Linked DNA regions of Homo sapiens: region 1 is linked to region 2. The links come from fine-mapping of genetic effects on gene expression. A gene starts in region 2. The other region holds a variant in brackets. All regions are shown on one strand. Distances are between the middles of the regions. Region 1 overlaps MBOAT1 (membrane bound glycerophospholipid O-acyltransferase 1). Region 2 holds the start of MBOAT1 (membrane bound glycerophospholipid O-acyltransferase 1).

The links.
Region 1: its variant is fine-mapped to the expression of MBOAT1 in whole blood (TOPMed, PIP 0.95).

The regions. Positions count from the first base shown.
Region 1 is chr6:20,086,149-20,101,979 of GRCh38, forward strand. It overlaps MBOAT1 (membrane bound glycerophospholipid O-acyltransferase 1), which reads right to left. Exons shown (of 13, transcript NM_001080480.3): 13 at 13,536-15,831. Among named protein-coding and RNA genes, the nearest start is that of MBOAT1, 120 kb to the right of the region's middle. RefSeq lists an enhancer at 6,045-6,548. The variant C/T (reference allele first, on the strand shown) is at 11,584.
Region 2 is chr6:20,208,775-20,224,961 of GRCh38, forward strand. It overlaps MBOAT1 (membrane bound glycerophospholipid O-acyltransferase 1), which reads right to left and starts at 3,695. Exons shown (of 13, transcript NM_001080480.3): 1 at 3,362-3,695. The coding sequence starts at 3,460. RefSeq lists a silencer at 3,501-4,040 and an enhancer at 4,223-4,723.

The sequences.
Region 1 (15,831 bases), 120 kb before region 2:
CAGTAGGATGCTAAGTAGAAATATGGAGATGAAATAACTGAAGAAAGATATGCAGAGTTGAAGTTGGGTGCCTCTGGAAGGCAGGACTGGGGAAGGAGCAGGAGCAGAAAAGGGCAGAGCAGTGTGCAGGAAGAGCATTCCAAGCAAGAGGCTGCTAAGGTCACTGCAATCCCAGGTCAATTTACCAAGCACCTTTTTCAGACCCCAGGTTCCTCCAGGCAGAGATACCAATCCGTTAGTGTCACAGATGTGACACATGCATACATAATTACATAACTAATGACACAGATGTAACCAGAGAGGATGGAAGAAGTGATGCACCTGTAGTATTCCAGAAATTGTTAAAGACACATGTTTAGGTTTCATTATTTATATTAGGTTCGTGCAAAAGTAATTGTGGTTTTTGCCATTAAAAGTAATGGCAAAATTACTTTTTGCCACAATTTGATTGTGGATTCTGTGCTTATAAATTAATGCTGGTTGGTTTTCTTCCAATTGCCTTCAAATAATTTAATGTTTCTAAAGTTAAAATTATATGTTATTTATAGATACTATTGCTTACTAAACTGGTCTACCGGGATTTCTATTGTGTTAAATGTTCTCCTACATGTAAATTAGTGAGCAAAACATAAGTGTACTGCTCAGTTATCACAAAGTGAACACCTGTGAAAAACTATCTCGATCAAGAAAGAGTGCGCTAGCCCCCTAGAAGCACCTCTTCTGCCCACACCCAATCACTACACCTTCCTCTTCCTCAAAAGTAACTGTCATGACTTCTAATAATATACCTGAGTTTTTCTTGGTTTTTGGACTTTACATAAAATGGGGTCCTGTAATATGTATTTATTTGTCTGGATTTTTTGCTTTTTTCTTTTATATGTATTGTGGAAGTACTTTTGTATATAGACCTTGTATTTCATGATTTTGCTAAGCTCACTTATCAATTCTAATAACTTATCTGTATGTATTTCCTATAGGATTTCTATGTATAAAACTATAAAACTCTATTTAATAAAAAATCTCTTCCATTCCAACCCTTTTCTCCTGTATTTCTTTTTCTTGCCTTATTGCATTTACTAGTAATTCTAATACATGTTTTCTTGTCCCTAATTTCAAGGAAAAAGCTTTCAACTTTTCACTATCACATGTTGGTTGCTATAGGTTTTTGTGTGTTCATTAGATAAAAGAAGCTCCTTTCTATTGCTGACTTGCCAAGGATTTTAACATCTTGAGTAGATCTTGAATGTATCCAATTGCTTGTCATGTACCTATTAAAATGATCATTATAATATCTCTTCTTTATTCTGTGAGCATGCTATATACCAAACTGGCATTCCCAAAATCAACCAATCTGAGCAAGGTTTATTATCCTTTTGACATATTGCTCCATTCACTTCATTAATATTTTGTTCAGGGTTTCTGAGTAGGATTCACCTGTAGTTTTCTTATAATGTTTGTTATATTTTGTATCAAGGTTATTCAAACATTAGAGATTATCTTTGTTCTTTACTATTCTTTGAAAAAGTTGCAAAAGTTTAGCGTTACTTCTTTCTTAAATATTTGGAAGAATTCACCATTGAGACTCTGAGGCTAAAGTTTTCCTCGTGGGAAAGTTGGCAATTATAGATCCCATTTATTTAATAGTTATAAGATTATTCTGATTTTTATATTCCTTGTTGTGTCAGTTTTGGTCAGTTGTGACCTTTTAAAGAACATGTCAATTTCATCTAACTCATCAAACTTACTGTTTAAAGCTGTTCATGATATTCTTATAATCTTTTAAATTTGCATTTGAAAAGGATCCTGTTTGCATCAGGATCTATGGTATTGTCTCCTTTTTGATACCTGGTAATAGTTGTTTGTGTTTTCTATCTATTTTTCTTAAATCAGTATATCCAGGAGTTTATCAATTTTATTGCTCCTTTTTCAAGAATGAACTTTCAGTCTTACTGATCCTCTTTATTGACTGTTTTCTATTTCATTAACTTTTCCTCTTACCTTTATTCTCTCCTTTCTAACTTTTTGGGGAGTTTAATTTTCTTACGTGATGCTAACCTCTGAGATGAAAGTTTAGATCATTTATTTCCATACCTTGTTCTTTCCTAACATATAAATTTAAGGCTATAAATTTTAAGCATGACTTTAACAGTACCCCACCCATCTGGTTTAGTAGTAGTAGTAGCACCTTTGTCACTTTGAATCAATTATTTTAATCAATTATTTTAAAAATATTAGATCTACCTTTAATCACATTCCCTCATAAGCCTCTAAACTATTTTTTAAGTTATCTTCTTTTATTTTATCATTTTTTATTTTTTGAGACAGAGTGTCACTCTGTTGCCCAGGCTGGAGTGCAGTGGCACAATCTCGGCTCACGGCAACCTCCGTCTCCTGGGTTCAAGTGATTCTCCTGCCTCAGATTCCCAAGTAGCTGGGACTACAGGTGCGTGTCACCACACCCAGCTAATTTTTTGTATTTTTAGTAGAGACAGGGTTTCACCGTGTTAGCCAGGATGGTGTCCATCTCATGACCTCGTGATCCGCCTGCCTTGGCCTCCCAAAGTGCTGGGATTATAGGCGTGAGCCACTGTGCCCAGCCTTATCTTCATATATTAATTTGACAGAGGAGGGGGAAACTTTCAACTTCCCATTGTATAGAGGACAGGTGAGAAGGATGCGGCACACCTGCCTGTTTGGTCCCACATTCAAGCTTCATTCTTCCCACCCAAATTCCTCAGCAAGACTTCTCAGTTGATTACTCCCTTCTCTGAGCCTCTGTAGTATTTGACGTCCGCTTTACTCATTTTGACACTTGACAATAAGCCTTCTTACTGTGCTACTTTTTCAGGTGTGCACGGATTTTCAATCAACCTATTGTGATAAGAAGAGGTACTAGATCCTTACAAATATTTTGCGTCTCCGTTAGCATGTTGCATGGTGCTAGATGTGTGAATCACAGTCGGTAATCACGTAAGACACAGGCAGAGCAGGTGTATGGGTAGAGGGGACAGGGCTAGCGTGCCCTGCCCACATACTCTCAACACTCATGTTTCCTGTGCAGGCAGCAGCTTCTTACTGCAATCCTCTACAACTGCGCCAAGGGGCTCTCTCCAACTGCTGAGCATGCTTTTCCTACCTCCAGGACATTCTATGATGCTGGGAGTTGTGTCAGTGACAAACGAGAGTTGGTCCATGAGCACCCCAGCCTCCTCTTCTCTCCAGTGGAATGAATGAGGTGTGCTCTGTGCAGTCTCACAGAGTTACCTGGTGTGCTGAGCCCCAGAGCCCACAGTGGTCATCTGCTAATCAATGCACTCTGCATTAGCATCCGTCCCTTCCCTGCCTCACCTCCCCATTCCAAATGCTTCCTGAGATCACTTCCCAAACAAACTACTTTTACTTAAATTCAATCCTCATCTCAGGGTCTACATATGGGGAAATAACCCAAGACTGTCTGTCGGCCTTTCCTTCTCTCTAAAGGGATTATCCATCATTCGGAGATTAACAAAGCTTAAAAAACAATTTTTTTCTGTTTCTTACTTTTTCTGCTTCCCAATTTTATTTACATGACCAAAACAAACAAATTTTAAATACAAGTTATAAGTTATTCAAGTAGCACAAGAAGAATTTTTGGCATAATTATTTATTTATTTATTTATTTATTTTGAGATGGAGTCTCGCTGTGTCATGCAGGCTGGAGTGCAGTGGCATGATCTTGGCTCACTGCAACCTCCATCTCCCAGGTTCAAGTGATTCTCCTGCCTCAGGCTCCCGAGTAGCTGGGATTACAGGTATGTGCCACCATACCTGGCTAATTTTTGTATTTTTTGTAGAGATGGGGTTTCACCATGTTGGCCAGGCTGGTCTCCTGGCCCCAAGTGATCCGTCTGCCTCGGTCTCCCAAAGTGCTGTTACTAAAGGTGTGAGGCACCGTGCCCTGCCAATATAATTCTTAAAATGAACTTGAGCAGTTTGGCGACGCCTGACCTAAGTCCTAGGGGAAAGCCCAGGGTTTCGATTCTGTTGCCATCACTTACTGTGGGTGTGTCCATGGGAAACTCACTCAAGTTATTCAGGCCTCAGGTTCCTAATTTTAAAACGGATAGTAACATCTGGTTCCACTAACTTTAGATTGTTGGTTTGGGAAACAAAGGAAATAATGTAAGAGAAAGCACTTTATAAACTGAATTACAAACAAAACGTGGGATGAAATAGAGTGTCACCTCTTTTCATGAGGTTCTGGAACTAGTCTTGCAGTGTTTAGAAAACTAATCACAAGAAAGAGAAAAAATGAAGGGAGGAAGGAAAGAATAGACTTGCCTAAAAGATAGGTTGTTTCGAAATATTTTCCCCCACGATGGTAAGACATAAACTCAATCTGTGAATTTTATCCAAGTCCCAGGTTTTGTTGAGAAACAAGTGAGCTGGGAAGGAAGAACTAGAAAGATTAATTCACTGCATTGCTTGGCCTAGTAACCATGGGCCAGAAGAGAACCTATGCCTACTTCACACTTCCGTGTGTGAACAAGGCATGTTATTTATTGTGTCTGCTAGGCACAGAGTGAAGACTTCAATATTTGCCAGAATGTTTGTGCTTCTTTCTAAATTCAGAAACTTGCCTAAATGGCTGGACGCAGTGGCTCAGGCCTGTAATCCCTGCACTTTGGGAGACTGAGGTGGGCAGATCACCTGAGGTCAGGAGTTCGAGACTACCCTGGCCAACATGGCAAAACCCTGTCTCTACAAAAAATACAAAAATTAGCTGGTTGTGGTGGCGCACGCCTGTAATCCCAGCTACTTCGGAGGCTGAGGCAGGAGAACTGCTTGAACCCAGGAGGTGGAGGTTGCAGTGAGCTGAGATCACATCACTGGCACTCTAGCCTGGGCGACAGAGTGAGACTCCATCCTTCCGCTCCCCTACCTCCCCGCCCGCAAAAAAAAACTTGCCTAACTGCTCCAACCATAAAACTGAAATGTCAGTGGTGGAAGATAACATATAAAACACCTGTATTTTCCTTTAAGTCATTCAGAACTTATTACCTAGGAAACAAAATACTACAAAGTTATAGGCCAAAAAATAAGTGTTGAGAAGCTCACTACTGGAAATAAAGAGGTTCAGAAGAGTGTGAAGAAAAACATCAAATTATGGAATGTTAGAAGCAGAAGCAACCATGCTGGTCAGCTTATTTAATACCCACCTTTTACACACAAGAAACTTGATCTCCAAAGAACTTATATGACCCCATATCACAATGACCTATTTCCACTATATCATCATTTGAGAATTCTGTCAGCTTCATAACTCATATTATGGTTTAACTCATTTAATCCCCACAATTCTGAAGAGTAATTATAATTGCTAGCATTCCTCCTAAGAAGAAAAGTATTCAGAGCCGGTTGCTCACTTTTTTTATGGTCACACAGCATGTAGAGGCAGAAATTTGCCTTAAATGAAGCTATTTTGCCTTCAGCATCTCTGCTCCTTGGAGTTTACACACCCTCCTGTGTGCTTTTTTCCTACAGTGGAGAGAGGACAGGGCAGGGAAACAATTCATTATTTGACCCTATAGCAATAGGGTCATTAAAATCTGACCTTTACTCCGAAAGACTATCATTTACTGTTCAAAAGAAACACCAGACAGTGACTCACGCCTGTAATCCCAGCACTTTGGGAGGCTGAGGCGGGCTGATCACGAGGTCAGGAGTTCGAGACCAGCCCGGCCAATACAGTGAAACCCTGTCTCTACTAAAAAATACAAAAATTAGCCTGGCATGGTGGCACACACCTGTAGTCCCAGCTACTCAGGAGGCTGAGGCAGGAGAATCGCTTGAACCCAGGAAGCGGAGGTTGCAGTGAGCCGAGATCATACCACTGCACTCCAGCCTGGGCGACAGAGCAAGACTCCATCTCCAAAACAAACAAACAAAAAAAAACCAGAGGTTAAAGTGGCAATTGCTAAGCATTCTAAGCATTCAGAGTGTGAATGAACAAATGAATGAATGAACAAATGAATGCTTGACTTCCTAATTCAACATGGAAATCATCAGAAATTACCTCACATGGCCACAAGATGTCACTACTTCACACCACTTCAGAAAAATCACATTCTAAGTCAAGAATTTTAGATCCTTTGGACAGAGGGAATTTCTTGTTCCTCATTGAGAAAGGCTTAGTTATTTTGCATGTGTTTTGGGACTGCTTCCTTGTTTTCTCTTAAGTCTATCTACCTCAAGAGATACTGCAAAACGTAGACTTTAAATGAAGGCTGAGGCTGAATGCTCTTAAGCTGGGAAGCATTAATCAAGAAGTCAATCACTCACCTGTTTCCAGGGACTTCTCAGCAAAAACAAAGGCAGGATTGACACTTTGACTACTCTGTTACCCTGCTCTGTTTGCAAAGCTTTCTCTCAGCACTTTCTTGTAATTCTACCTCTCTCATTGCTTCAGATTCACAAAAAAACAGTGATTCAGCAACATCCAAAAGGCAGCACACTGGGGTTTTAAATAGTGCTTTCTTCTTGAAATGTTTGCCTCACACCTTCCTTACCGGGAATAAGGTTCAAATTACTGCAGTGAGTTTACATAAGCTATTAATGCATTTAATTATTCAGTTCAGGGCTGTCCTGGGCTTATTGGTATTTTTTTTTAAGTATCATGAGACTCCAGTTTGCAAATCATCATTTCAAGTTCTTAAAAGTTTTTATACACCAAAATAATGTTAACCAAGCTTGATATTTCAACTTCAGCTATATTTAACATTGATAAAATAAACTTCAAATTTATTTTGATGGAAATATTTTATTCATGAGATCAACTGATGCTTGTAGATTGATTTTTAACAGTCCTAGAAAGTTTTAGAGTTTGATGTATTTTATTGGCATTCTCTATTAGATTCCCCTTCCTAACATTTCTTATTGAAATTGTTGATAAATAATCTTCATCAATTAGCCATTCAAGTTTGATGGGGCTGAGAAGGAAGGAAGCTCATTCATAAAAAGAAGCTGCTTGGTGGGTTTGGGGATCATTCAACTTTATAGGCCAAAAAAGCTGTTTTGCCTTAAAGGTCCATATTTCACACCACTTCAGAAAAATCCCATTCCAAGTCAAGAATTTTAGATCCTTTGGACAGAGGGAATTTCTTGTTCATCATTGAGAAAGGCTTAGTTATTTTGCATACGTTTTGGGACCACTTCCTTGTTTTCTCTTAAATCTACCTCAAGAGATACCGCAAAAAATGTAGACTTTAAATGAAGCCTGAGGCTGAATGCTCTAAAGCTGGGAAGAATTAATCAAGAATTTCTGGTGATTTCCATGTTGAATTAGGAAGTCGAGCATTCATTTATTTGTTCATTCATTCATTCACACTCTGAATGCTTAGAATGCTCAGCAATCGCCACCTTAACTTCTTAGGAAGAACAAATACATCCCATTTACTGAGAGGCTAAACAAACAGTCACTCGCCAGGCAAAGGGTTAAACGGTTCAGAGAAGGAGGCCTCAATCTCCACATTGTGATGGACTATACAATATGTAAAAGTCATTTCTTACTAGCAATAGTTTAAAGAGTTAAGGTTTGCAAGTGATTTTCCACTTAAAATTAAATAAATTACCTAACCGCATTCAAGTCAACCCCCATTACAACTTCACTGGATTTCATTCCTTGCTATGCTCATTAGAGCAGGAGAGAAAGAGACGGGAGATTTCATGGCATGTGGACATTCTCATCCTGTAAAGTTAAATGGAAAATTAAAATTCCAAACTCTATAGGAAGCATTAGACTTTTCCACAGATAAATGCCGATACCAAAGAACAACCAGAAATATAAAACAACAAAACAAAACAAACCTTCAACACAAAAACTAGAAATAAAATGCCAACAGGGGCTGGGATTATAGATGCCTTATTCCTTTTCTGTATTTTCAAATTTTTCTAAAAGGAATATATTTTTTAAATAAAGCAGCAGAAACCAAATGCCCAACCATTAGGGGACTGCTTTTCAAAATTATAGCACATTTATTTACACACTATTATGCAGCCATCAAAAACAACTTTTAGGAAGTTTCTGCAATAATATGGAGAAATGCTTATGATGTAAAACATTTGCAACAACTTGAAAAGCTCGATGCAGGGCACAGAATTTCTCTGAAAGGCCACATAAGAAGATAACACTGGCTGCATCCAGATGATGAAAACAGAGAGCTGAAGGTAGGCCTAGCAGGGAGAATTACTTTTTTTTGAGACAAGTCCCACTCTGTCACCCAGGCTGGAGTGCAATGGCACAAACTCGGCTCACTGCAACCTCCGACTCCCAGGTTCAAGTAATTCTCCTGCCTCAGCCTGCTGAGTAGCTGGGATTATAGGCGTGCAACACCATGCCCGGCTAATTTTTGTATTTTTTAGTAGAGACGTGGTTTCATCATGTTGGTCAGGCTGGTCTTGAACTCCTGACCTCATTATCCACCCACCTCAGCCTTCCAAAGCGCTGGGAGTACAGGAATGAGCCACCGCACCTGGCCTGAGAATTACATTTCTCTATACATTTTTTCTCACTGATCCAATTGGCAAAACATAAGAGTCTGCTAATACCAAGTACTGATGAGAATGTGGACAAAGAAAAACTGTTACACATTTTGGGGAAAGAAAAAACGCATACAACCAGCTGGAGAACAAGAGCACCCGAGCAAGCTGAGAGTGCATTTCTTTACACTAAGATCCTGCAATGCCACTGCATGATGTCCACCCTGTCACCAGAGAAATACAAAAGAACGTTCACCATAGCACAGTTTATTACCACAGAAACAGCAAGAACCACTAAAGGTCTCTATGGGTTGAACTGTATCCTTCCTGAATTCATATGTTGAAGTCCTAACCCCCAGGACTTCAGAATGTGAATGGATACAAGGTCTCTGAAAAGGTAAATAAGTTAAAATGAGGTCATTAGGGTGGGCTTTAATCCAATATGACTGGTGACCTTATAAGTAGAGGAGATGGTCAAGCATGGTGGCTCATGCCTGTAATCCCAGCACTTTGGGAGGCCAAGGCAGGCGGATCGCCTAAGGTCAGGAGTTTGAGACCAGCCTAGCCAACATGGCAAAACCTGTCTCTACTAAAAATACAAAAAAATTAGCCGGATATGGTAGCGGGCGCCTGTAATCCCAGTTGCCTGGAAGGCTGAGGCAGGAGAATCCCTTGAACCCAGGAGGTGAGGTTGCAGTGAGCCAAGATTGCACCACTTCACTGCAGCCTGGGTGACAGAGCGAGACTCCGTCTCAAAAAAAAAAAAAAAAAAAAAAAAGGAGATTAGGACAAGACACACAGAGGGAAGACCATGTGAGGACACAGTAGGGAGACAGCAGCCACAAGCCAAGAGGAGAGGCCTCAGAAGAAACCAAACTTGCTGACACCTTGATCTCAGACTTCTAACCTCCAGAACCATGAGACAATGTTTATGTTGTTTAAGCCATGCGGCTTGTGGTACTTGGTTATGGCAGGGCTAGCCAGTTCATCGGGAGGAGCACAGATGAATACATTCTCAGTTATACAGACAATGAGACACTACATAGTCTCTAACAGAACCACTAACTACCAAAAGCTGTAAAAGACGGAAGTCCAGTATGGACTCCCAGGAAATGGAAAACTCGTAGGAACTTCGTTCCAGCATGCTGGACTTACCCCACCCGAATCCTAGAGGCCCAGAGAACTTGATTGAGCACCACCATCAAGGGAAAGCCTGGACTTTAAGGGACTAGGAAATAGAGAGCCATAGGCTCAATTTCACTAGGGCCATTTCTAGTGCTGGTCACTAAATGCAGGGGCCAGAACCCCAAACTCAACCCACCTATCCGAGATGGCCCCTCTTCATTATCCCAGAGAAAATCCTGCCATGGCTAATGGAATTCATTCATTCCCTCATTTGTTCAACTAACATTGATCCAATACCCTTTTGAGTCAGAGACTTGCCAGGTATGAAGAAATGAGTTGTCAGGCACCTGGCAATCTGGTTGGGGAAGGACAAATGACATCAAGCTAATCACAACACAAGGTGTTATCAGGGATCTATGAGCAGAAGCTAGAAGTGAGAAGGACTTCACAGGAAAAATAGCAACTTGTACGGCACATTTTCTCTGTCTAAAAGGCCTTCTGCCCTTTTTGCTTTGGGAAGTGCCTATTCAAAAAATGTTGTTCTTTTAGGCAGCAGAACTTAAAGTTACAAAGGCACCAAGTCACAAACGCTGGCTGCATATGGAACAGCTGCCTGCCTGAAAGGAGGGCCAGGAACCCAGGCTGGTGAGGGTGGAAGGGAAGGGCATGGGTTTTATGGTGTAGACAGCAGGAGCTGGCAGGAGTTTTGATGAAGAGGAGCATCCTGAAGGGCTCACCAGGAAGAGTCCCAGGCAGCAGCATGGAGGACTGGAGGGAAAAGGTTACCAGTGACCATGCAGAAAACTTGTCCCAGCATCTGGTGGCTTTTCCAGACCAGCGGACACAGAGACAGTTGCAACCTGGGACTGCAGCTGGAAATGCTGAAAGGCCATTTTGCCCATCAAGCAGACAATAGACCGAAAGAAAGCCAGGGATGAATGGACGATTGATTGTAGCCAGCAACTGCTTAGACAGTGTAAATCGTAATGCCAAAAGTGCATATCCCCTATGAATTTTCTTTGTTCGAGAACAAAAGGGGCCATTGGATCCTGAGGGCCATGTGGACACAGAAAGGCTTTTTTCTAGAAAATTGTTCCCCGTCTGCCTCCACAGGTTGGATCAGCAGTTACAATAAAACTGTCTGTGAGGCTGCGTAGGATCGGAGGCCAACCCACACTCGGAGAGTGCAGACTTATAGGTCCCCAGGAAACACCCACCTCACCTGGACACTCATTTTCAGGCCTAAGAAGGGTGTTCCCAGCTGAGAAAATGTCCCAGGAAAGATAGAGGGCTCCTCTGAGACCCACCGTGCTGGGTGTTTTTTAGAGAAAGCATGGCTATTTGTGGGAAGTACACCCTAGTGGGTCAAGAGAAGGTGCTTCCACCCTCATCTCTGCTACAGAAGTGATCTGTGATGCCTGGGGCAAGACATTAAACCACCCACCCACCCTGAGCCTCAGTTTCCTCAAATGTAAAAAATAAGATGAAGCCAGTACTTCCCAAACCTGGCTGTACATCAGAATTTGTGGGAAGCTCGTTAAGAATACTGATTCCCAGGCATGGCTTCAGACCAACTGAATCAGAATATCTGGGGAGTGGGACCCAGGAGTCTGTTTGTAATCAAAAATCTGTGAGGGCATCTGTTTCCTGCGGATCCCTAAGGTCTACCGCTTTATAAGATGCCCCTGGATTTAGAAATTCAAATAATGGAGAACATAGCTCCATTCCCCAACCCCATGGCTAGTATTTTGTATTTCTCGAGATTGATTCTTGAGGGAGGCTTAGGTTACTGCTGGGCATATTTTAGTCTGTTCTCTTATCTCCTCCCAATGCCAGCCTAAACTAGAAACAGGTTTAGTTCTCTTTTTAAAGATGAAATGTGTCTCCAGCTATGGTAGTAGAGGGGAACATTACGTAAGAATCCAGTAATTCTCCACCTTC[C/T]TATTCTTAAAGGTCTCCCTGACCAGGCCACCCACTGGGAATTTCCTTTCTCCTCAGGCCCCAATTTTCTGCCATCTCTTTATTCCACTGAGTAGTCTCTGCCCAATTTCCCCAAAGTTTACATATACCAGCTACTTAAAATCTAGGCCAAACTTCGCATATCTCAAAATGCATTAAAAGAACCATGTTAAACAAAAGGTCTTTTAGGAACACAAAGCAATCACAGATGTTCCAAAAGGCCTTCTTTTTGATGTAAACAATTTAGCTAGGCTCTCACCTCCCCATTCCACCAGGATATAATCACCATTAACCACTGGGAAGAAGGTTATGGTAACACGACCATTATCCCACGTTGATATCAATCACACCGTTCCCCTGAGAAAAGGGAATGGTGACCATCAGCAACTTAACAGCAAATCTATCTCCCCACTCCTTGCGTGTTTAGCAAGCTCCCCAAGTGACAAGGCCAGCTGGTCAGCATTTGGAAACCACTAGACCAGGTGAGTGCTGGAGTTACTTCCAGCTTTAAAACTCCGTTTCTTTGAAAATGAACGTGCTCTGCACCAGGTGGTGGGATGGACCCTGGAGTCAGCCAAACCAGGATTCCAACCTCAGCTCCTCCACTAACTAGCTGGATGACTGTCGTCAAGTTACTGGCTACTTGCTTTCCACATTTGCAAAAGAGAATACTGCCAAGTTCACAGACTGTGTTAGGAATGCATGTGAAAGTAGCTGCCAATAACTTAGTTTTCTTTGTCTTAGCACAGAGTAAGTAGCGTCAGATAATTTTAGCGCATTAGACAAAGCTCACATGGGCTGCACCTTCTCTAAGCAAATACCTTTCCTCTGGAGCTTCATGAAGTCTTTCACTAAGTCTGCAAACTTCACTAAAGATCCCTCCGGAGGGGGATTGGCCACCCTACTACCCCTACGGGGAACCATGAGAGATCAGTCTGCTCCACTGGGTACCTGCTGCATTGATTGGCACTGACATGTTGCAAGCTCAATACCCAATTTCAGCACAAGGGCAAGCTTAACTTCACCTGGACATGAGGCTGGAGAGCAGTGATGCTGCTGTCCTGGGTAACTCTCAACACTGTAAAATGAGATCACTCTAAGAAAACAAGAATCAGGCAATCCATCACTTTATAATTTCTGAATGCTGGAGTTCTCCTGGGCACTCCTACTGTGCACTCCTCCGGATCATGTCTTTCTGGGCATATCGTGAACTCTCCAAGAGCAGAGAATGGGGGACTTCAGCATCTTTTACCTGCAGTGCCTCACAGAGTACCAGGCCCACACCAGACATGACACATTTGATAAATAAGTGAATGCATTAATTAATGGAAGGGTGGACCAGAGGGGTTCAGACTATGTAAACTGGCTGCCTGAGTAATTATATCACGTAATGTACTTTCAGAATTCCCTGAAAACACAAGCCTTTATTTCGGAAACTAATTCTGAAAAGCAGAAATGATGTTTCCCAGTGCAAAAGTGACTCAGTCAAAACTGTCAAGGGCAATGATGCATTAAACTAATTCATTCAATCCCTCATTCATTCAACAAACACTTACTGAATCTTCATTACAGGACAGGCACTATGCCAAATCCCAGAGACAAGAAGAGAAAAAAGATGTGGTCCCTGGAGGAGCCAGGCATCAATCACTTTCTTTAAGCTTCCTGTGTGGTTCCAATGTGCAGTGGGAGTTGAAAAGGACCGTCTGGGAGCCTGCAGAGTAATGGAGGGACACACGCCGCACCAGTTCTGGGGGTCACCTGCTAACTCCTCTGTTCTTCTTCCAGTTTTCTTCTCCCGCCTTTTTCTCTCTTAGCCAGTCAAAATCTCAGACTGAATTATTTATTGCTTTTTGCAACCACTGAATAATATCTGAATAATATTCTTGCTCCATATAGTTACCTTCAAAGTACAAAAAAAAAAAACAACTGCAATATTTTAGATTTGGCTTTTTCAAAAACAAAACCAGAAAGTGTATTTATTTTCAACTGAAAGCTCACATTCCAATAAGTATTTATGAACTGCATCTTATATTTAGGACAACTTGGAAATCTAAGGTAATAAAAACAGTCCCAACCTTCCGTCTAAATGTTGGTCCTCAGTTGAAATCTTTTTCTATGGGTAAGTGGTTTTCAGAAGAAAAAGGATGCTAATCAGTCTCCTATGTGTTGTTCTTTTTATACAGAATAAAGCCTCATGTTTGTGTCCCAGGGCCTAACACCAAGTCTGACATATAGCATCCATAAGCTCAACTCCTAGAGGTTTGACTTCTCCTCATCCCATAAGGAGTAATCAATTCTGGGCAGTCACTAGTGGGACCAATGGCCCCAGCTTGCCCAGGACTGAGGGCTTGAGAGAGTCCTTGGCAAACCAGGGCAGCTGGTCACCAAAGCAGACACCTCTGCTCTCATTACCAAGTTCTTCTTTCAGACATGAGGATACTTACATTACATACAGTGAAACCTGATCATCAATCACATTGTAAATTCAAAGACTTCACTGTAATATGATTATTCCACATACTCCACACCAATGGTAATATTTACCATTTTTGCTAGTTTGCAAGATGTACATTTTTCTTGGTCTCGTACCTCAAACTATTCTTGGTGGAGACAAACTCTGACAGATTTTAGATACCTACAACCCCCTTCCCCTACCCACTATCTAAGATTCTTCCTGGGACAGCGAAGTAGGGTTGCCCCAAGATTTCCTTGTTAAAGTGGGGTGAGACTCATGCACTAGCTCACATCTACTACTTCTTAACTTCCACTGTCCCAAATAAGGACTAAAGTTTGGGTTCTAGTACTCTCCCCCAGCACCAGGACTGTTTACATGCTGTAGAGGAACAGGCACATCACATTCACATTTCACTATCCTAAGAGAAGCAGCAGTAGGACACCTTATGGACCTGTGTCTCTATTGACACAGACAAAAAGCAATTATTCCCATCAGAAACATTTCTTTTATATGGGAACATACTGTTTATTCAATAAGAAATTAATTTTTTATCGTTGGATTTGAATAAATTTTCTTCTCCCAAGCAATCTGATTGGCAGTACACCATTGCAGCATATACTTTATTATTATCATCATTATTATTTTCCACAACATTTAATACCAAGTTTCCTTCTCTCACATAGAATATTACCCAATAGAAGTCTCCAAAAGGGGCCATAGCACATTCATAACAAAGATAGAAAAGAAAACTTTCAATGTCTGCTTTCCAATATGATGATTCAACTAAAACAAAGCTGAATTTCTCAGCTATGAAACTGAAAAAATGAAAATCAGCCCATGTGTACATCACGGCCAGCCATGATCATTAACACCTCCATGAAATGAGGGAGAAAAGAGAGAAACAACTGCTTCTTCTTACCAAACTTCTATATAACTTCAAATTACTTTAAAAAAATTTCCTAAAAGGCATTCTGCTGCCTTTCTGAGGCATGAACATTTGGGTGTCTTCTCAAGACCAACCCCGGGCAAGCAGGTGGCGCCTGTGAAATGGAAAACATTCGGAAAACAGCAGCCCCTCTTCAGCTCCATGTACAGGAGACTTTCTGATTTCCAATCTTGGCTCAGGTCAGAAGAAAAAGGGGAAAGGTTACATTCCTGGAAAGAAAATACAGCCTATTTGAGGGCATGCCTGACTTTCAGTCCATGCACTAGTCCTCTTGGCTCGTAGAGTTTTCAGTGCCCTGAAACCATGATCCCTCTGCCTCCATGGTCCTCTGAGTGTAGTTATTATGTCTGCAAACCAGTAATGTCACAAGTCAAAGGGTCTGGGGCTTCCCAGGGAACCACTATGACTGAGTATATTCTGATTTGAGAAACCTGTGACAAGTCTTCTCAGCACTCGCCTTCTAATTTTTGGAGCCGATGCCTGGGTTCCCAGCATCCAGGTCACAGTAGCTGGAAATCATGCAGGAAGGGCAAAAAGCCAGCAGCCCAGAATGGACTGTCTCTGCAGCTCTGGCACATTCTCTACACATCGCCACACCACTCAAATGTCCTATAAAATATCAAAACCAATAACCTGGACATGGCCGATTAATCTGTACAAAAAGGCTTTATAAAAATACTCCCGGCCGGGCGCGGTGGCTCACGCCTGTAATCCCAGCACTTTGGGAGGCCGAGGCGGGCGGATCACGAGGTCAGGAGATCGAGACCATCCCGGCTAAAACGGTGAAACCCCGTCTCTACTAAAAATACAAAAAATTAGCCGGGCGTAG
Region 2 (16,187 bases):
CAGGTGAAATACCCCAAAAATGCTTTGCTGGTGGGCAGAATTTCCAACCACCAAATTGGAAGTTCCTTAAAGCCTGGAAACACTTTCCATTTCAGCTTTCACAGCTCCTAGGACATAATGACGTAACTGTGCACTACACAAATTACTAACATCAACATTATCATATCTGTTTTGGCAACTGAGTCAGTCTTGCAAACCTTTAGTTTAAAGGCACATTAAGTTACACTCCACAACCAAAACAAAGTGAGGAGGACAGGAGCAGATGATTCCTTGATTCCCCCAAAACAGGAAAGAAAAGTGCTTGCCCACTTTATCCTAAGTGAAGGTTTTTATTGGCATAATCCTACCACCTACCATAACTCCATATTTGCTCACTGGACAAGGGCCCATTATTTAGAAATAAAGTTTTCAACAACCTTATCTTTGAAGCATCTATAGAGGCCCCTAAGTCATCATCCCATTTCCTGTATTCTGCATCTGAATTATTATGCGCTATTTGTCTCTAATTAAGGGAGATAATTTTATATTTCACATCTTTAGGAGGATGTCAGACTAATCAAAATCCCTAAAACAAAAACCATAGACTTTTCCTGAGTATAGTCCTAACCACACACAGGCTTTCCTATTTAAGGATGCCACGAAGTTAACAGAACAGATAAATGGAAGAATCAGATGAAAAAGAATGAATAAAGAGTTCTTCACATACGAAGCAGAATGCTTACCAGGTATTTCCATTTTTGCTGATAATAAACTACTTGACACAGGATCCAGAGGCTAAAGACATTCACAGGAGTGCAATTAATCAGGAATTAGGATGTTAAGACATTAGGAAATGATTCAGTGTCCTTAAGAGGCATACAAAAAACTATTTGAGTAACTTGAGATATATATTTTATAATTTTGAGCATATCCCAGGCCAATCAAAAGTCACTCTCTAATGGGACAGGAGCAAACACGTATCAAGGCCTGCACTCTTATCCTCAGGTTACTCCCTAGATCTGCCTCCACCTTTATCCTCCCTATCCTGTGCCACAGGAGGAGCCCCTGCAGGCTGAGGCCTTGGGGGCCACTGTGAAGAGATGGAAGGGCTACAAGGTAGGAAGAAGGGCTGAGGTTCTCTCTCTGATTCTTCATGACCTCCAGGCAGGTCCAGCTCTCACAAATGGCAATGAAGTAACTCCACTTTCCCCTCCAGCTGCCCCCTACTTCTGATCTCAGCATCTCAACATCCTTTGTTGATTCCCTTAAACTTGCCCATACCCCTCTAAGTAATTCATTAAAGTCTGTTCATTTCAGCCAATGGGGTTGGTTCCCGTTTCCTGCAAGGACCCTGATACAAGAACCTTCCTAATGTCGGGCATTTCACATCATATAAAATTTCTCAACCTCAAAAGGTAGGTCTTATTGTCATCTCCCATTTTACATGAGGATGCTGAGTCTCCAAGAGGGTAGAGTACCAGCTGGCAGTCACAAAGGGAAGTTTGCTGGCAGAACTGGAATTGCACCCAGGTCAGTCTGACATCTAAGCCTTTAAAAAGCCTTAAAAATGTGAAAGGGAAAAAACACACAAAGCTTCCAAACTCGCAAGCCACAACGTAGCCTCAAACGACCTTATTTATGGTTTGGGGATTTTCCTTGGGCCTAAAATAAGCTACCTGGGGCACTGCCTTTTAAGTGCTTCTTCCACCAAGGGTCATCCACACTCACTCCTGCTGGAGGGTGGTCAGACTGACCTAAGAGCTAAGAGATCTCAGGTGCTCCTGGCCATGGCAAACATTTCTCCTTCGGTTTATCCCAGAAGTCTCTCCCTCCCTCCCTCCCTCCCTCCCTCCCAGTTTTAAACATTCCTAAGGCTCTTTTGTTCCTTTTTATGAATTAAAACCAGAATTACCTTTATAGGAAAGTAGGGGATGCAATTGAAAGACATTAAAAACATTATTCTAGCACCTCCCAGCCATAACTTGCCATGGTCCTTTAGCCATACAAAAAGCCTTCCTGGAGTCTTTCTAGCTGTGTAGAAGAGCTTAGAAGAGAAAATGCAATTAAAATACCTTCTGATAGGGAGTGGAGAGGTAAGTACAAAACAAACTCCCCTTAAGGAAATTCAGCTATGAGTTTTATTTAATTTCAGAACTAAAGAATTTGCTATTATGTCCGCCTCTGCCTGGGTCCCTGGGTCTATCTCATCCTCACCAGAAACTAAAGAGTAATTTACAAAAGCACAAATGCTTTGGCACCGAAACCCTTCCCAAGTTTCTGACTTTCTGTATTCTGCAACTGATGAGAACGCAATGGTCACATCAGGTGGAGTTCTCAGTCAGGTCCTCAGAGTGAGCCAGGTATGAGGGTGGCTCAGTAAACAGGACCCGAATAAGGCAAATGTCCAGGTCTCACTTTCTCATTGCTGAAGGGGTGTGCGCAAAGGGCAGCAGGTGTGCTCTTGTTAAAAGGAAAGGAAAAGGAGCACTGGTGAGAGGAAGGGGAAGAAAACCAGGCAAAAAAGCATGAAACAAAACAGGAGCGCAGTGGGTCCTCCCCCAGCATGCCCTGCCCAATTCTATTTAAATCAACATTTACTGATTGGGTCACTACTAAGTATCCCGCAGATCTAGCCTGCAGCACCTGAAGAGACAAGGAAATGAGTAAGACGGGCTTCATCTTCAGGAAGGTTTCTTGCCAGGAATCACTGTTGTTGCCATTTTTAATTTTAATGGTTGTAGATAATTCCTGGACAGTTCAAATAACTTCACTGGGGCCCCTCTCCTCCCCCTAACCTGTCCTACTCAGAAGCTCCAGCCCCAGGCATATGAGCCAACCGAACCCTGGGAAAACCAAAGTGTCCTTGTGTGTCCCGCATCACACACGGTACAAAATAACTGTCACCCCTGAACAAGCCTCGCCTCAGAAGTCTAAAACCCAGGTCCTGCATTCAAAATCTATAGACTACCGTCTACAGATTCATCGCGCTTGTTTTTTAAGTAGGGTCATCTAAATTAAAAACAATAACGACTTGAGGACACTGATGAAAGAAACACTGGTTTCATGTATCAGACTACTTCAGAACTTGATTACAGGAAACGAGGCAATCCCAAACTTAAAGAAAAAAAAGTTCAGTAGAACTTGCCGCGCAGGCTGTACCAATATTTTTTCACACTTACAAGGAGAAAAACACTAACACCAACTCAAGAAGGGAAAACACACACACACACACACACACACACACACACACAAAAACCAACTGTCTAGTGTGTGGCTGTAAAATACGCCATGGAGGCGGAGGGACGGTGGCTAACACTTTCGCCCGCCCCGTGCACGCGATCGCTGGGGAGCTGGGGTCGCTGCGCTCCCGGCCTGCAGTTACCTGGTCCAGCGGGATGCCCAGGAGCTCGCTGAGCGGGTGCAGGTAGGTGGAGCCCGTGGTGCGGTAGGAAAGGCTGGACGGCTGCGGCTCTGCTGCCATCCTGCATCTTCGGGAGGTGGCTGCCCCTGTCCCAGCCCGCAACACCCCCTGCTCGGCGTCCTCCCGCCCGGGTGCTCTTGGGTGGTTGCCCCGAGAGGCGCACGGCCGCCTGGTTCGCGGGGGAGCGAACGGGAGGCCGGGGAATGCGAACCGGCGCAAACTCTCGAGGCGCAAACTCTCGAGGCGCAAACTTGGCTTTGGCGCTGGCGCTGCAGCCACGGGCGCCGTAGGAGGGCCGGGCCCAAGGCGCCCCGCTTCCCGCTCCCTTCCTCTCCGCGCCCATTGGCCCGGCCGCTCGGGACGGCCCCGAGAGGAGGGAAGGAGGGAGGAAAAGTGGGGACTCCGAGCCCGGCCCCCAAGCGCCGCCCGGCCCGCCCAGCCTGGCCTGCACCGAGGCCGACCGGGAGAGGGAAAGCGACGCCAGCGGGCGCCGCCGCCTGGCCCTGCAGCTGGAGGCGGGACGCGCCTTTCCTCCTCCCGGGCTGACCGTCCTAGCCCCCCGCCAGACAAAACGACCTCACCCAGCGGGCGCCTTCCACTAGAGAGCACCACCCACCCCGCCCCACCCTGTTTTGGTTTCGCCGCCGCAGTCGAAGCGGCTGAGTGGCTGCGTTTCCCTTTCAAGCCGTAGAGGGTTCCTCTGCCGGTGGCTGGAAGCTGGAGCGCCGCAGCCACCAGACTCCCTACTTCCTTTACCCTCCTCTGCGCTAGGCATAGTTTCCTACACCCTGATCTGACATGTTCGGTGTCACACAAGCAAATACAGGGGACTGCTAGCTTCGGGTCACTTCCGTCTCTGTGGAGTGAGAGTTATTTCACCTCTGTAAGAAACGGTGTTTACTGTCATACTATGTGCATTCTGATAAGTCATTTGCATGCCACGGGTCCTCAAAAAGGGTGCCTTGCTCCTTAACTTGTCTGCCCCCGAACACCCACACATCAATGTTACTTGGAAAACTTTTCCAAGTTATTGCTAGGTTCTGAGAAACATAAAAATCTTGAAGATCCTTTTCAGGAATCGCTAGCTGATGAAAAAGGGTTTCAGGAAGGTAATATTCTGGGCTGCTGGGTAGAAAACCAAAGAAAGTGAGCTCACGTGGCCCCCAGCCTCCGCTGGGTAAACCGGCATTCGATCAGACAGGCAATGACTTTCGGGGCCGACTTTATCAATGTGGCCTCCAGCTTCAAATTAAACCGAAGGCCTGTCAGGCACTGGCAACAACTTACTCTCCAAGACTCAGGCCTCACTCTTGCCTTCTTCAGGAGTTTTATCACCATCAAACTGCACTGAGCATTAAATTGCCAGGCCAGAGTTTCTCAACCTATGTCCCCTGTGGAGGAGGAAAAAAAAAAGTCTGTACCACCACTCCCACAAGCTAACCGAATGGAGATGTCACCACCAGATGATAATCTCTACCACTCACAAGCAAACCCACACTACAGACAGACAGACACATGCACACACGCACACAGGCATATACTTGAGGATCACTAGGCTAGATAGGTTCATTTAATATCATAGAGTCCTGGAAAATGACCAGCATTGGAGCAACATTCATCTTATCTGGAGCTAGATGACAGCTGAAGTGAGGTATATGAGAGCAGACGGAGCTTTGTTTAAAAGGAAAAAAAAATCAACACTCAGATATGAGTTGCTGGAAAACAGAAGTAGGTCAGTTTGGGAAGTATTTCTGGAGCAAGTGCCTCAGACCCTTTATAATTTTCACAAAGCTATGCCTTTTAGACTTCAAAGAATAGTCCTCACATAGGCCATATATATATATGTGTGTGTGTGTGCGTGTGTATATATATTTATTATAAATATATTAATTTATATAATCATATATAAATATATTTATATATGTAAAGTTTTATATGTACATATATTAGCCTTACACAGGTTTATATATACATATATTACACAGTTTTTATATATATATATAACACAGGTTTGATATATACATATGTATATATGTATATGTAAAATATATACATGTATTAGCCTTACACAGGTTTTTTTCTCCCTAACAAAACACAGTTCATAACCTAGTCTAAATTTTTCTTTTAAAAATGGCCGGGTGCGGTGGCTTATGCCTGTAATCCCAGCATTTTGGGAGGCCGAGGCGGGCAGATCACCTGAGGTCAGGAGTTCGAGACCAGCCTGGCCAACATGGTGAAACCCCATCTCTACCAAAAAACAAAAATTAGCCAGGTGTGGTGGCAGGCACCTGTAATCCCAGCTACTTGGGAAGCTGAGGCAGGAGAATCGCCTGAACCCAGGGGACGGAGGTTTCAGTGAGCAGAGATCACGCCACTGGACTCCAGTCTGGCTAACAGAGCAAGACTCCATCAAAAAAAAAAATAAAAATAAAAATGTAGTAACTATGGTTAGAGCTTATAAACAAAATGTCACAGAACTTAATAGTTCTTTTCTCTTGATACTGTAGTACAATTAATGCAAAAAAAAATACTACTGTTGGATAACTCAGAACCAAGAGAGTAGCTCTGTTACACTACAGATGAATGAAACACACTTTGAAGAAGTTGTTTATATGAGTCCAAGATGTATAACAGCGGCACCATGGACACATTGCTCTTTTCCTTCATCAGTATCTCTATTTCCATCCTCTGTCAACTGTAGGTTCACAATAATTATTATCATATGTTAGAAATCACTTTACAAAAGCTGTTTCATTTACCAGTGCTAATAATCCTGTGGTAGTTATAAGAATCTATTTTATAGATGTGAAACCTGGGGTTAAGGGAGCTTAAGTGACTTGGTTGTATTTAGGGAGGTTAAGTAAAATGTGTCTGTCTGATTCCAGAGCCTGGGCTCTTTATTCATTATGCATTGCCTCCTCTAAAACATAGTATTTTTCTCTTTATCAAGAGGCCAGCCCACACACCTGATACAACCTTGTCATTTTTGTAGACGAGACATTACATTTACCATTCAAAATGAGGTGGTAGGGGTGATGCCACAGACACGCTGTCTCTCCTGTTTTCTATTTGCAGTAGAGTGAGGCTTGATATCAAGGTCAGTTTTATGAATCTTCCCTATGGAACCATGCTCAGAATGTGACATTATCCAGGAGATCCACTGCACATCCTGAAGACAGGTCAAAAAATTAAAGCCAGGCACAAAAAAACCTGAAAAAGATTCTAGCATATTGGGAAGGGCTGCATGTTACCATGGACTAATAAAAACTCTACAAACTGCTGTAGAGTCACTAGGCTTTGGCAGAGTGCCTAAGGAGTTCCTAAAGAAGTGAAGTATTCTGATTTTAAGTAGATAAACTCCATGCCATTCTATCATGGATATTCAGAGGCACTTTCCATTCTTCCTACTTCACATACCAAATCAAATCAAACAACATAACTGATAATCAAAGAACAAAACTGAATTAAATACATCCTCAAAGTTTACAAAGGTATAATCCCTCAAGGAGATAAAACTCTAATGATACCTTCAGTCTATATTCAACCAAAAACAATCACCAATAAAACTAAATTTAAGCCATCTGAAATGATATAACCCATGTAAAAAAAGAATTACCATTTTAATAATACTACATATTAATGTAATGATACTATATATTCACAGAGCACACTCACTTATCCCCTTTGATCCTCCCAACAACTCTATGAAGTTGGAAGGGCAGGTGTTATTATCATTTGTATTATCATGTCATCTCAATTTTTATTCAAATGAATACTGTTTCTAATAAATTGCAGCTAGCTTATCCATCTAGTAAACAGCAAGTGTAGGGTTCAAACTTGGGTATTCTACTGTTCTTTTTAACTATACAGAAATCTTTTTATTATACTTTTTATTATACTAGGAGTATAATACTATTTTCCTTCAGGAAAATAGCAGAAATTGTTGCCTGCATAGGACATTAAATTCCAGGCTTAACATTTGAGAGCTGATCTGAAGAATGGTCAAAATTGACCCATGATAGGTATCACCATTGTTTTCTGAGCAGTTTCTTTAAGCATCATCCACAAAGCTTCAGGTAATTTATGTTTTTCAATCAATGATGTATTCCTTCATGTTTTAGCTCAACTGATGTGTGTTTGCTTGGAACATATATTGCAACCTGCCTACCCAACATATTTTCCAAGCTTGGGATCACAGTTAAACATTGTACATGTTCAGAAAATGAAGAAACTAATATAACTGAACATCTGCCAGATTTAGCTATGACTGCTATGTTATAGCATTTTTTGCTTAAGAATACTGTATTAGACCAGGAATTAACAGGTGCAGTGGCTCATGCCTGCAATTCTGACACTTTGGGAGGCCAAAGTAGGAAGATGTCCTGAGGCCAGGAGGCCAAGAACTCAGCCTTTAGAGCAAAACAACCGGGTATGAAAAACCAGTACTGCCTTTTACTAGTTTGGGGACTTTGAGCAAATCAATGAACTTCATGAAGGCCCAGCTTCCTCCTCTGTAAAATAGGAATAAGAATAATGATCCCTTGCAGCAGGTCTAAGAACTGGAGGAGAGATTTTGTTCAAAAAACATAAAAGAACTGAAGCTTACCCTTTCTGCACTAATGTTTCATTTTTGCCTTAGTTTTAGGCAAGGGAGATCTTTCTAAAATGCATTGCACGTGACCCTGAATACTAAAACAGAGTTAGTGATCTTAGCTTAATCATTACTGATGACTCAGGCATTATTGTGAACAAGAACCCATCCTGCAATACAGCAATGTCTTGAAGTCCACTGACACATCAAGAGTTTGTCCTTGCAGCCGGGCGTGGTAGCTCACGCCTGTAATCCTGGCACTTTGGGAGGCTGAGGTGGGCAGATCACCTGAGGTCAGGAGTTCGAGACCAGCCTGGCCAACATGGGGAAACCGTGTCTCTACTAAAAATACAAAAATTAGCCAGGCATGGTGGCACATGCCTGTAATCCCAGCTACTAGGGAGGCTGAGGCCAGAGAATCACTTGAACCCGGGAGGCGGAGGTTGTGGTGAGCCGAGATCGTGCCATTGCACTCCAGCCTGGACAAAAGTGAAACTGTCTCAAAAAAAGAAAAAAAAAAAAAAAGAGTTTGTCCTTGCTCTAAACTATGCCCAGAGAGGTACACTTTCTCAACTACTGTGTCTACTTTCTAGTTTTTCCATTTCCCCTTCTGCTCTTGTATTTCACTTGTCCCTGCCTTGCCTGCTACTTTGGTTCCCCTGTGAACTGGGGAGCTCTACGAATTGCCGTAGAGTCACTCGGCTTTGGCAGAGTGCCTAAGGAGCTCCTAAAAAAGTAAAGTATTTTTATTTTAAGCAGATAAACTCCAAGCCATTCTATCCTCCACGCCATTGTTTCAGAGGCACTTTCCATACCTCCTACTTCTTTGACTGTGTTCCAAATAGTTACTATTGCCAAAGTGTCCTATGAATAGCAAAGTGTGATTGAAGATAATGTTTGAGTACATAAAGACAGACAAAAACCTGTGCTACCCAGATTCCATGGTTGGCTGCAGTAAGAAAAAAGAGCAAGCTGGGGCTTTGCCTAATGCCCTGGAGCCGCTGGGTATTGGGAGGTGCTTGGCCCCACCCTCCCTGTCCTCTACCCTAACTCCACCTTGGGTGTTGTTGCTGAGGCCACTGTCACCTTAGGCTTCAGGGAGCTGCATAGTGTTAACCCCTCGACCCAAGACTTTATATTTGCCTTGGAGACCAATTGGAATCTCCCTCAACTCTTGTATTTTTCCCTTACTTTTCACTCTGTTCTGCGGCCCACTTCCCAGGGCCAATGATAGTACCAAGCACAACAATGTTTTGGAATGAATGGGTGGATAGTTTCCTGGCAATCAATGCAGCCAGCTGAACTCATGACTGTCTCTTCTCTTCTCACTTAAGTCCTCATGACCCAGCTTGTTGTTCTGAGTCTGTGTGGGCTTCCGTCAGCACATTAGACTGGCCAGCCCTAAATGCTGAGTGTACAGTGAAATGTTATTTATAGCACTAAAATAGGTATTTGCCCCTATTCATTAGGCTCTCTTCTTATACTCCTAATGTATCATTGCTGCAACTTTCATTTCATTTTTAAACACTTTTCCATCATTATTGATTGATCTCCTTGAGTATCCTGTAAAGTAAGTTTTGATGTTCACAGAGATCACAAAAAAATCTACTAATAAGCACTCATGTCAGTTTCAAAGAAGGGGCCATCAAACTTAGCTGACCACAGGATTTGTTTTGTGTACATCCTTTAGAAGAAACCTTCCCCAGATTACTGTTCGGGAAACAGTGCTTTTGCTTATGAAAATGGACTCAACGTTCAGCAAATATTTATTAAAGAACTATTATTTATAAACACTGTTCTAGGTGTTTGGGATACACATCAATTAACAAACAAAATCATTCCCATCACAGAGCCTACACTCTGCCAGGGAAAGACATCAATGAAAAACATTTAAAATAATATTATGATGTTAGATGATAATAAGTGCATAGAAAAACAGAAAAGCACAGCAGAGTAAATACTGCAGCCCATATGTTGCATTATTTAATAGGGTGGTCAAGATTGGCCTCATTGAGAAGGCCACATTTAATCAAAGACTGGAAGGAGGTGAAGGAGTTAACCAAATAGATTTCTAGGTAAAGCACATTCCAGAAAGAGGAACCATCTAGAGCAAAGGCCCTAAAACAGGAGCAGGCCTGGCAAAATGGAAAAACATTTGTCTGGCCAGTAAGGCTGGAGCAGAGTGACTGAGGAGAGAGAGAAAGGAAATGAACCCAAGAGGTATGGGGAGGCAGCCCACGGGAGATTGGGGCCATTGCAAATGGCTTGAGCTGTTCCTCTGATTGCTATGGGAGTTATTGCTGGGATATGAGCTGAGGATTATATATTATATCTGGTTTATATATATATATTTTAAATCACTCTGGCCACATGTTGAGAACAGACAGTGAGGAACACAAAGAGTGAAGCAAGGGAACCAATTAAGAGGCTATTTCAGGACTCCAGACAAGAAACTGGAGTGGGAGGAGTGGGGATGGTAACAGGGAAGAAGATGAGAAGTGATGAGCTTCTGGCTACAAATCTTGGATGATAATGTGTCTTGGTTCGTTTGGGCTGCTGTAACAAAATACCTTAGACTAGGCCGGTGAGGTGGCTCACGCCTGTAATCCCAGCACTTTGGGAGGCCGAGCCAGGTGGATCACTTGAGGTCAGGAGTTCGAGACCAGCCTGGCCAACATGGTGAAACCCCGTCTCTACTAAAAATACAAAATTAGCTGGGCATGGTGGTAGGTGCCTATAATCCCAGCTAATTTGGAGGCTGAGGCAGGAGAATCACTTGAGCCTGGGAGGCAGAGGTTGCAGTAAGCCAAGATCGTGCCACCGCACTCCAGCCTAGGCAACAGAATGAGACTCCATCTCAAAAGAGAAAAAAAATATATCTTAGACTAGGTAATTTATAAGCAGAAATTTATTGTTCACAGTTCCGGGGGCTGGAAAGTTCAAGATCAAGGTGCCAGTAGATTCAGTATCTAGTGAGGCATTGCTCTCAGCCTCAAAGAAGGCACCTTCTACCTGTGTCCCCACTTGTCAGGAGTGAACAAGTTCCCTTGGGGCTTTTTTATTTTTTAATTTTTATTATTACTATTTTTTTTTTGAAACAGGGTCTTGATCTTTCACCCAGTCTGGAGTGCAGTGGCACGAGCTCAGCTCACTGAAGCCTCCGCTTCGCCTCCTGGGTTCAAGTGATTCTCCTGCCTCAGCCTCCTGAGTAGCTGGGATTACAGGCACCTGCCACCACACCCGGCTAATTTTTGTACTTTTTTTTTTTTTTTTTTGAGATGGAGTTTCCCTCTTGTTGCCCAGGCTGGAGTACAATGGCAAGATCTCAGCTCACTGCAACCTCTGCCTTCCAGGTTCAAGTGATTCTCCTGCCTCAGCCTCCCGAGTAGCTGGGATTACAGGCATGTGCCACCACGCCCAGCTAATTTTGTATTTTTAGTAGAGACAGGGCTTCTCCATGTTGGTCAGGCTGGTCTTGAACTCCTGACCTCAGGTGATCTGCCCGCCTTGGCCTCCCAAAGTGTTGAGATTACAGGCGTGAGCCACCGTGCCCAGCCTCTGGCCGCTTTTATAAGGGCACTAATCTCATTCATGAGGCTGGAGCCTTTATGACCTAATCACCTCCCAAAAGCCCCATCTCTTAATACTACGGCATTGCAGATTATGTTTCAACATAACAATTTTGGGGGCATGCATTCAGACCAAAGCATAATGCCTATGTCCTACCACATTGGAGTTATTGCCAAAAATAGAACTAACCCTACCCACTTTGGACTCGTTTTATTGCTTTTTCTTTTTTTTCAACCTCTGCATGTAGCATTCAAACCTTTATTGCTTAGAGTCTTTTATTGCAAGAGAAGGCAGAGGGGAGCCAACTTAATCACTTACATGCTTTTGAGCATTATACTTTAAAAGTTATTTCCGTTAATATTAAACACAGTAAAGGAGAATTATCTCACTTTATACCTACCAATAATTCAAGACATTTTTCAGCATATTCATTTGCTAGCATCTTTGGTTAGCATATTTATTTATTAAGTTGAAGTTGACAGAGGCATATTTTGCATATTGCTTGTGCAGACACATATGTATCCTAGATCCCACCAAAGCCACTCTGTCTTGTGGAATTCAGATAAATTAACCCAAGCCAAAGATTGTATATTGTATGCAAAGTCCTATGCCAGCTGCAAGATTTTACCAATGCCTGGGCATTTCTCTCATCTAGACCCCTGTTCCTGGTCCTTCTGGGTCCTCACCTGCTTCTCTCTTTCCCTCCATCCACATTTAGCATCTGTGTGTGACCATATATTGAAGACGTAAAAGGACCAGGGAATCCATGTTGCAGACATTCAAAAGCCTTAACATTCCATAATGGATGTCACTATTTCTAAAAGATGCTTCGGCATCCCTTCTACTAGCAAATTTTGCACTTTCTCCTTTCTCTATAGGTGCAGCCCCAGCTAGGTTCCTTGGTTACTCCCTCCCGCCCTATTCTCCTCCCGACTCCCCTCTGCTTTCCTCTATACCTAAATTCTTTCATGTTTAATTTAAAACTACTAACCTATCTCTTTGCCTACCAAGCTGCTTAAAATCCAGCCCCTAAAGGAGCTTATTGTTTCCCTCCATAAACAAGACCATTCTGAAAGAAATTCTCCTACTAGTTGTGAACATTTTACATTTTCCTCCAATTCTCACACTGATAGAGCTCAGATCATATCCAACAAAGCATCTTGGCATTTGAGAAAATGACAGAGGCAGAAGGTCACTCTCACTTTCCCTTCACCTTTCTTTGCTGAAGCAGGTCATAAAACCTTCATTCAAGAGGTGCCCTCCCTGAAGCTGGGAGAAGACACAGGGACACAGAGAGGAATCTGAACGCACGTGCCTTGCTAAGCTCCCCCAGTTTATTTCCATTAGATCAGACGCCCTTTGACCAATCACACTTCCACAGGAGTATCCACTTCATCAAGCCTAAGCATAAAAACACACAGGTTTCCCTGTGTCTTTGGGTCTTTATTTCTTAAGGCTCCTGTGTCATGTGTAACTTACATTAAATAAATGCAGATGCTTTTCTCCTGTTGATCTGCCTTTTGTTATAAATGCCTCAGCCATGAACCTAGTAATGAGTGAGGAAAAGAAATCCTTCCTCCCCTACAATGCCTATAAACCGAAACTTCCTGGGCTACAGCGTTCAAATAACACTGCCCCATGAACTTTGTCGATTTTTTTAAACCTTATTTAGTGAGAGATATGTCATATGTATGTGTAATCATATATATAATTTAAACAAAAATAGACTATTAGTTTAATAGATGTAGTAGATTTTTTAAAACTTTAGTGAGAGATATATCATATGTATAATATATATAATTTAAACAAAAATAGTCTATTAATATCATAATATATATAATTTTTGTTTGTTTGTTTTTTTAGATGGAGTCTCACTCTGTTGCCCAGGGTGGAGTGTAGTGGCGTGATCTGGGCTCACTGAAACCTCCACCTCCTGGGTCAAGCAATTCTCCTGTCTCAGCCTCCTGAGTAGCTGGGATTACAGGTGCCTGCCACCATGCCCAGCTAGTTTTTGTATTTTTAGTAGAGACGGGGTTTCACCATATTGGTCAGGCTGGTCTCAAACTCCTGACCTCAGGTGATCCACCCGCCTTGCCTCCCAAAGTTCTGTAATTACAAGGCATGAGCCACTGTGCCCAACCAATTTTATATATATATAAATACATATAATATATATACACATATATAATTATATATAAAATTATATATATATAAAATAATTTAAAATAGCCTAATAGTCTATTAGCCTGGTGTGGTGGCACACACCTGTCGTCCCAGCTACTTGCAAAGCTGAGGCTGGAGGGATGCTTGAGCCCAAGAGCCCAGGAGTTTGAGGCTGCAGTGAGCCAAGATCATGCCATTGCACTCCAGCCTGGGCAACAGACCAAGACCCTGTCTTAAAAAAAAAAAAAAAAAAAAGTCTAATAAAACAGACACCCATTTTAAGAAGTAAAACATCAGAAATTCCATCCACAGTGTTCTTCAAGCCAAGCAAGCACCCCACCCCACCCGCCCCTACTGCCCCACGTACTCAAGGACTTTCTGAGGGCACATAGGCATCAACCATTAAAATGGTTGGTGTTAGGAATCTACTAGGAATTATTAGATACCTCAATTCCATATATACTTTTTCCTGCAACCGATTTGCCTGACGACTCCTGAGTTCACAATAGCTCTCCTTGCACTTGACCAAGGCATTCATTGTAAATCTCACAATAGAACAGGGGCCCTGGGTGAGAACCAGCTCAGCTCCAGATGATCCCTGTCTCCTGAGGGATTAAGTAAGGCCCCATAAACCTACAGGACATTCTGTGTCTCCCATTTTATACATACTCCTGTAAAGGGTCAAGCATGGTTTTTAGAATTGAGTATTTGGGGCCCTGTTAAGATGTTCTCAATTCAGACATATGATGGTGATAAGGACAAAGGCATGGGGGATGACCATGAAAACTTTCACCTCTTCCTTCCCCAGCCCATTTTCAAGAATGAGGAAGTGTCCTGGGAGAGAAAACAGAAAGAGAGGGGGTAAGAAATACTCAGCACTAAGTACTTGGGCTTTTATTTTCTGTATAAGTAGAAGAACTTCTTTTCAGCTATGCTCAGTACTTTCTTAGGATGTGTCATTTACCGGAAATAAAAACATCTTGATCAGCTGAAACAGAAAGGGTGATTTTGGTTTTTTTCAATGTAACTGGAATATTTTTGGGAACTGCCAAAATTTTCATGATAACTTTGGATAAAAATCCAAAGATAAAACTTGTATGGAATTTCTTTCAGCTTTGGTATGTGTTATTCAAGGTAGTAATTAAAACCTATTTTAGCAATTAAGAAATGTTTTGTAATTAAAGTGATTTTTCATTTTATTTCATCCTATAAAATGCTTACCATTTTCTATCTCTATGAATAAAAAAATTTTTAAATAAAGTAACCCCTAGTCCCTGCAGTTCTTACCAGTGTAAACTTTTATCTTTGTTAAAACCATTTTCTTACCATTTTCTACCTCCTATGAATAAAAAATTTTTAAATAAGGTAATCCCTAGTCCCTGCCGTTCTCACCAGTATAAACATTTATCTTTGTTAAAACCATAGAAAAAGCAAAATCATTATTCTTCTCATCAAGAGATGTATTTCCATTAAATTTTACTTTTTATGTTTAATGATTATCAATATTTATAATGTTTTTATGGATTTTTGATAAAATGTGTACTGATAATAATCATAAAGATAACTCAAAGAATTTTTATCCTAGAGCTTTCTAACTTCAGGAAATGAGATAAATGTTAAGAATTACAATTATGAGCATATTTTGTTTTGAATAAATACGATGGTGTTAACAGAAGACATTCAACCATAAAATGTATTATATTAGGATAAAAGTCTATGGAGGAATAGACTAGAAATAGGACTCAAGTAGAAAAGAAGAAGAATTACTTTTGTAATGCTAAAGAGCTTATTCATGAATGTTTTCCATTGTTGGATGGTATTAGTATCAACTTATAGTTTTAGATTCCATAGGATACTCTTAAAAGAGATACAAGGTTTATTTTAAAATTTATTTATGTATTTATTTTTAGAGACAGGGTCTTTCTCTGTCACCCAGGCTGGAATTGCAGGGGCCCAATCATAGCTAACTGCAGGCTCGAATTCCCAGGCTCAAGCAACCCTCCCACCTCAGACTCCTGAGTAGCTAGGACCACAGGTGCGTGCCACCACAACTGGCTACTTTTTTAATTTTTTTGTAGAGATGGGGATCTCACTATATTACCCAAACTGGGCTCAAACTCCTGGGCTCAGACAATCCTCTTACCTCGGTGTTGGGATTTACAGGCATGAGCCACTGCGCCCGGCCTATTTTATTTTTGAATGTCAATATTTGCAACATGCTAGAATTTACATTCTTTGCAACTATTGCAATTTATGATGAAAAATTTTAGATGTTGACTTTAAAATGTAGGAGCAAATTCATAGTTTTTCAAAATTCTTTAAGGGAGAAGTGAACAAAATGTTCGAAAGCCAGTGCCTTTATGAAACCTTAGATGCCCCTTCTCACTGTGTCACCATCTTCCTAAAGCAAAAATGATTCGAATTTTGTGTTATTTACTTTCTTCTTTTTGTAGCTTTATCTCA